2 linked regions of the Homo sapiens genome follow. The protein of the gene in region 2 interacts with the protein of the main gene of each other region in a pairwise test. Each region holds a gene or a part of one and is shown on either strand. Other genes may lie near its edges.

Region 1 (3,754 bases), on a different chromosome or scaffold from region 2:
ACTCAGGAGGCTGAGGCAGGAGGATCGATTGAGCCCAGGAGTTTGAGGCAGTAGTGAGCCGAGATTGCGCCACTGCGCTTCAGCCTGGGTGACAGATGGAGACCGTCTCAAATAAATGAATAAAAATAAATAAAATCTTTATTTCCATCTTGTGTCTTTCCTAGTCATTGGAGAGATCCTCTCCATCTTAAATGTCCTAAGTTAAAATAGGTGACTTAATTAACCTCTCTGAGCTGAAGTCTCTCAGCCACAAATGAGGCTGTGTGGCTGGGCACAGTGGCTCACGCCTGTAATCCCAGCACTTTGTGAGGCCGAGACGGGCGGATCACCTGAGGTCAGGAGTTTGAGACCAGCCTGGCCAGATGGTGAAACCCCATCTCTACTAAAAATACAAAAAATAGCTGGGTATGGTGTGGGTGCCTGTGATCCCAGCTACTGCGGAGGCTGAGGCAGGAGGATTGCTTGAACCCAGAAGGTGGAGGTTGCAGTGGGCCGAGATCGTGCCACTGCACTCCAGCCTGGGTAACAGAGCGAGACTCTGTCTCAAAAAATAAATTAATTAATTAATTAAAATTTTTTAAATGAGGCTGTGGTTTTGTTTGTTTGTTTTTGAGACGGAGTCTTGCTCTGTCACCCAGGCTGGAGTCCAGTGGTGCAATCTCAGCTCACTGCAACCTTTGCCTCCTGGGTTCCAGCAACTCTCCTGCCTCAGCCTCCTGAGTAGCTGGGATTACAGGCATGTACCACCATGCCCCATTAATTTTTTTTTCTTTCTTTTTTCTTTTTTTTTAAGACAGAGTCTTACTCTGTCGCCAGGCTGGACTGCAGTGGCAAGATCTCGGCTTACTGCAACCTCTGCCTCCTGGGTTCAAGCGATTCTTCTGCCTCAGCCTCCCGAGTAGCTGGGACTACAGGTGCACACCACCACGCCTAGCTAATTTTTGTATTTTTAGTAAATGTGAGGTTTCACCATGTTGGCCAGGATGGTCTCGATCTCTTGACCTCGTGATCCATCCTCCTCAGCCTCTCAAAGTGCTGGGATTAAAGGCATGAGCCACCATGCCCAGCCTAATTTTTGTGTTTTTAGTAGAGACGGGGTTTTGCCATGTTGGCCAGGCTGGTCTCGAACTCCTGACCTCAGTTGATCTGACCGCCTCAGCCTCCCAAAGTGCTGGGATTACAGGCGTGAGCCACCACACCCAGCCTGTGTGTTGATTTTTACAATGCACCGTGGAGCATGTAGTGCCAGGTGCTTCACAAGGCACTTTACAGTTATGAGCTCATTGAATCTCCATCATAACCCCGTGAGATGGGGAGGATGACAGTGATGCCCACTTTACAGACGAGAAACCGAGGCCCAGACACAGAAAGGAAGGAACGATCTCAGCTTTCTTGGGGTTGAGCATAAAGGATGTTGGGCACACGGGCAGGGGGCAAGGGTTGAACCGTTGGGGGTTGATAGCATTATCATTTCTGTTGCTGTGGTGTCGGGAATGATGGTGAAGAGGTTGACTTATTGAAGTGCTCACTCTGTGCCTGGCACTGCTGTCCCATTTACACTTACTATCCCATTTAGTCCCCCCAACGACCTCAGGAGGGTAGACACTATCACCTCCATCCCCATCGCACAGACAGGAAACCTGGGCACAGAGAGGTAGAGGCACTTACCCAAGGTCACACAGCCAGCAGGTGGTGCGGATCTGGGAGCTGCCCAGAGTGCTGGAGTATATGTAGAGGCCCAGGAAGCCATGGTGCTCTCAGCCCCCCCACCATCTCCAGCTGGCATCTCCCCCACCCCAGCCACTCCCGCATACCTGCCTCGGATCCCTTCCCCTCGGGGCCAGCCACGAGGGCCTCATCCGACTCGCTGTCCGAGACCTCCAGGGCAGGGCTGTCCAACGGTAAGTCTTCCTCCTCTGATAGCACAGGGCTGGGGTACGGGGCATATGCCGGGGGAACCAGGGTCTGCGGAAGGTCAGGGTCACCTGCATGTCCAGGGACCCCTTGTCTCCCTCCACTTCCTCCTCTCAGGCCAAGGCGGTGGCCCTCCTGGCTCTGGTCTCCCTCTTTGTTGACAGCCTAGATTTTGGCCTTTGTTCAGATCACCACGCTGTGGCCAGGGGACACCTGAGGTACCTCCTCAAAGCCGGCCCAACACAGGTAATGCGAGTCTGCCCTGTCCCTGGCTTCCTGTCACTACCTCTCTTGACTCACTTGTTCAGAGGGGCAACAACGGAACGTAACCTGGGAGGCCGCTGCAGGGCTTACTATGTGCAGTCTCAATGCAGTGCCCGGCACCCAGCAAACCTCAACCAAATGACTGAGCTTGAGTTTTCTTTTCTTTTTCTTTTTTTTTTTTTTTTTTGAGACAGGGTCTTGCTCTGTTGCCCAGACTGGAGTGCAGTGGATTGCCTCGACCTTCTGGGCTCAAGCAATCCTCCTCCCACCTCAGCCTCTCAAGCAGCTGGGATTACAGGCGTGCACCACCACACCTGGTTTGGGCTTGATTTTAACTGTCCCCTTACCACTCACCTGGCTAGCGAAGTTCTCCGTGGGGTATGCAGGGAGGCCAGGCCCCGGGGCCTCCAGGCTGGGGGCCAGTTCGAGGTTCCCTGCAGGGCTGTAGGTGGGGGGTTCGTAGCAGAGCTGGGCAGCCTGGGGGTGGCTAAAAGCGGCTGCTGCCGGGTCGAAGGCTTCATAGGGGGTGGCTGGGACAGGTGGGGCCACAGTCCAGTCCCACAGGGAGTCTGGGGGAAGGGCACTGAGTCAGAAGCTGGGATGTCTCACGGAGGCCTCCTCGCAGTCGAAGCCCCCAGCACAGAGAGGCCATTGTAGGCTGTGCAAATCTCTGACCCCAGGATTTGCATGGAGGAGCGGATGGGTAGGAGAGGAAAGGGGAGGAGGGCTATAGGCCCGGGCCACCTTTATCCTGTTGTGCTAGGAAATGACCTCCCCTGGGCCTCAGCTCCCCTATCTGTGAAATGGGCCCCAAGGCAGGAAGGGCACAGGGCTGGGGTCACTCACCAGGAGCCCCCTCTGAATCAGGGTAGCTGGAATGCTTGCAGCTGTCCAGGTCATAGAAGACGCCATCTGGGTACTGATACGGGGTGCAGGAGGGAAGAGGGGTCATCCCAGGCCTTGGGGACTCCCAACCCCCACCCTGGACCCTTGGGGAGACTCCAACACAGACATGGGAGAGAAGAGGGGATGCTGGAGAGATTAGAGCAACAAAGAAACACAGAGACTAGGCATCAGAGACAGGGACAAAGAGACAGAGATACAGAGAGTAGAGACACAACCCAATAGGGGCACACAGCAGCCAGCTCCTGCTAAGACGGTGGGCTCCCAAGAACCCTGGCCCCTCACTGGCACACAGTCAGCGAATCAGGGCGCCTGGAGAAGGGGTGGAAGAACTCCCCCAGCCTTGCCTGCCTGGGGGCTCCGGAGGTGAAGGGCAAGGGGAAATGGAAGTGTTTCACTTAACAGAGGCAGGGGTCAATGCTTTTTAAATACACCTCCAGGCCAGGCGTGGTGGCTCACGCCTGTCATCCCAACACTTTGGGGGGCCGAGGCGGGCAGATCACCTGAGGTCAGGAGTTCAAGACCAGTCTAGCCAACATGGTGAAATCCCGTCTCTACTAAAAATACAAAAATTAGCTAGGCGTGGTGGCGCACGCCTGTAATCCTAGCACTTTGGGAGGCTGAGGCCAGTGAATCACCTGAGGTCAGGAGTTCGAGACCAGCCTGCACAACA
Region 2 (3,754 bases):
GGATAGGAGAGTATTTGAGGGCAAAAATTATATTTTTTAAAAGTTATATTGTAGACAAATATGGTGGCCATAAGACTGACCCCCAGTTAAGGTTGGGGAAAGAACGTACATTCCTTGAATTCCAAAAACACATTGCTTTTAGAGGAGAGGGTTTGAAACAAGTGTGAACAGAATATAAACCAATTTCCCTCTTATTGAAATAGAAACTCGGTATGTTATCCCTCTATAATAATCCCCACTCTGTAAGTTTCCTGTCCCCAAAGGCAGTTGTTGCTTTTTAGTACCTTCTGTGGTATAACTTTTCTTTGTGAAAGATACATTTTCCTCGTCACTTTCTGAAGCCAAAGAGAGGGTCAGGGTAGGAAGAAGGAGACACTATTAGTGGTTTCCTATATTTACTGCTTTCCCAGTTATCTTCCATTGTTAAGTCCCATGAACAATGATTAGTAGAAAAAATGCTTTTTAGCAATCGTGAATACAGTCTCTGAAACATTATTTTTAAACTGCTAACAAGAATGAAAATATGCATTAAACCACGTACTTAGTACCTCAAAGAATTCAGGGAAGATTCCCCTTTTTAAAAAACAAAATTGTGAAATCTACCTTCTTTACCTTGCTTTCACCACGTTTTACCTTGCTTTTACCACCTTTCAGGTGGCTTCATGGGAATTTATCAGGGATCTGGTGAGCATAGGCAATTGATTTTGACTCATCCTAGTTACAGCTGTTAGTAGGAAGTAGATGACTAAAAGGGAATTGAAGTTGGCTAGCTTGGGAAAGTAGATGTAAACTGGTCCTACAAATGGAATATTTGTAAAATCAGGTTAACTTAGGAAAACCAGCCAGAAAATTAACTATGAGTACTTGAAGCTATTTGCCAAATGGGTCCAAATCCCTAGGAAAGAGGTTAAAGGTATGGATGATATATCTTTGCAGATGGCATTAAAGACAGAAGAGTTAAAGGAAAACTACTGCTTTATATATTTCTGAGAAACCACAATAAAAGCTTTCACCCCGTCTGTCAATCTCCAGGTAATGTTATTTATGCACGTCTAGGCTTAGAGTATTATTTTCTGTTTTCAAGTTAGCTTTACACAGTATAACATTAATCTCAGAATCCATTCTTCCAAGTAATACACAAGGTGGCGATTTATAGAAAAACAAAAAATCCTTTCCTGTTCACAAGGTGGAGTTCTTCAGCCCACAGTGCCATATTTAAGGGTGCTTTGTTTCAGAGGATGATTAGAGTGGCGCCCTTGGTACTGATTATAGTGGAGCTACCTGTAGTGCCCAAGTCTGGGCACTGCATTATATTAAAACTTCCATTTTGGGGTATGTAGTGACTAAAAATTGTCTCCCAGCTTAAACTTGGCATCAACCATATATCTCAGCAGAAGCAAGATTATTGAGTATAGAACCACAGGAACCCGGCACTTTTCTTTTTATAATTGTACAGGAAAAGAGACCCTGCTGAAATAGCACCTATGGTTCTCCATTCTTAGATGAAAATTTCAAGCACTGAGGGCTCTTTCCCAAAGTAGAATCAGTAGGTTGCTATGACTGTGACAGGACATAGTCTCTTACATTATTAAATCCCAAATTTTCTAGAATAAAATAATTTCAGCTTCTTTTTAGAAGCAGCAGCAGAAAATGATGAAGCCTTGTCTGCTCCATTGAGTAGCACTTCTGACTATGGTTTCTCTGGAGTTCTTACATTTCCAACAGTTCACCAACTAAGATGGAATTTGTCTAATGCATGTCTCTGACATGGTGAAGATTGAGAGTTCAGGTCTAACAAAAGCCGCTAAGCATAAACTGCACCCAAAAGTTGGCAGGTCTGTGGAATCATGGACGGAGTGGAACTCAGGCAAAAAAGTGAGGATGATGTGGCCTTGAATTGTCACAATTCAAGGCATATGCTTGGCAGTTCAACACCACTATCTCTATATAGGCGTGTCTTACTGAAATGTCCCTATTTTACCCCTAGGATGGCCATGTTTTATATATTTAAAAGCCCAAATTAATTGGGCATAAATAATTAATTACAGATCACTTAAAGACTTTTAACAGTTCTCTTCATATATGTAAACAAAGGGACAATGTGCACCTGGCCTTACACTATTTCACTAAGTCAGAAAAAAATTAACATTTGTATAATAAATATGAATTGTACTGGGTGTCTACTTTTTGCCAGGCACTGTGCTAAATAGTTCACATGCATTATCATATTTAACTCTTCAAAAGAACCTTAAAGGTGACACTGTTTTTGTCCCTATGTTACAGAGGAAGAAACTGAGTTGAGAGATTAAGTTATTTGCCAATGAACATACAATTTGTAAATAATAGATGCTTTACAGCTGGTAAGGTAGTACTCATATTTTTACCCCCATTGAAAAAAAGGTGAAGAAGTTGCTTCTGGTTAAGTCCTTAGATATTCTTGAGACAGAACTTGGGATCAGAACCAGATAGGTCTGCAACTCTGGCCACCTGAAGACTTTTCAACCTCTTCTTGGACACAGAGTGTTTAGGTGGTCTTTGTTCAGCCAATCACTTAGCTTTCCCCATCCTGTCTTTCCTGCTTAGGGAAAGAATATCAACAAAATTCAAAATTCGAAGACTTACATGGAAGTCTAATATAATTTCGATAAGAAAAACAATAAATCAAACTTTATATTCAGTGCTTAAGACTTTGTATGCATTGACTAGATAAATTTCCTACACCCTCCCAGAAGAAACAGCTCCTTTTTTGAGACGGAATCTCGCTCTGCCGCCAGGCTAGAGTGCAGTGGCGGGATCTCAGCTCACTGCAACCTCCGCTTCCCAGGGTCAAGCGATTTTCCTGCCTCAGCCTCCTGAGTAGCTGGGATTACAGGCGCGCACCACCACACCCAGCTAATTTTTGTATTTTTAGTAGAGACGGGGTTTCACCATGTTGGCCAGGATGGTCTGGATCTCTTGACCGCGTGATCCGCCCCCCTCGGCTTCCCAAAGTACCGGGATTACAGGCATGAGCCACAGCGCCCGGCCAGTAGAAATAGCTCTTAAAAGTGTAGATAACCGGCCAGGCGTGGTGGCTCACGCCTGTAATCTCAGCTACTCAGGAGGCTGAGGCAGGAGAATGCTTGAACTCGGGAGGCGGAGGTTGCAGTGAGCCGAGATCGTGCCATTGCACTCCAGCCTGGGCGACAGAATGAGACTCCGTCTCAAAAAAAAAAAAAAAAAAAATGCAGATAACCAATGATTCAGCATACATTGCAATCATATAAAAAATGCTTCTGAATATGTATATGAGTAACATTTATATTCCTGTAATGAAAAACCTTTTGTGTGCACATAAACTCAAAAGGATATTATTATTCCTGGAATAATAATTTCATGTCAAGGAGAATAAAGTTTTGAAATAACTTGGAAGATGGTGAGGGTAATTTAGTATACTTTAAATACTTAAATACAATGAACTAGATATAATAAACCTGGCTTGAAAGATAGTCTTAGGGACCTGGCCCAACAAACACTGTTAAAATTTTTTAAAAATCAACTTGAAGCTCTCATAATTTCCCATTATCAAAACTACCCCCTGCAAATCTGTGAATCTAATCCAAGAAGTATGTCAATAGCTGGTTGTTTAAGGTTAGGTTTATGAAATAGTAACAGAACTGTGCAGGGGTCAAATATGCTTAAAATATGTCCAAACATGCTTAGGTCAAGTCAGTAAGAGTATCTGAAGCTAATAAAAGCATGGAATATTCTTGCG

The links. The genes of interacting proteins can lie anywhere in the genome.
Region 1: the proteins of E2F3 (region 2) and SPIB interact in a two-hybrid assay, tested with the Homo sapiens proteins (one study listed by BioGRID).

Annotation. Positions count from the first base shown.
Region 1 is NC_000019.10:50,421,816-50,425,569, reverse strand, and holds part of SPIB (transcription factor Spi-B), read right to left. Parts: intron 3,098-3,754; coding exon 3,025-3,097; intron 2,748-3,024; coding exon 2,533-2,747; intron 1,966-2,532; coding exon 1,815-1,965; intron 1-1,814. UniProt on the Homo sapiens protein: Sequence specific transcriptional activator which binds to the PU-box, a purine-rich DNA sequence (5'-GAGGAA-3') that can act as a lymphoid-specific enhancer.
Region 2 is NC_000006.12:20,404,816-20,408,569, reverse strand, and holds part of E2F3 (transcription factor E2F3), read right to left. Parts: intron 1-3,754.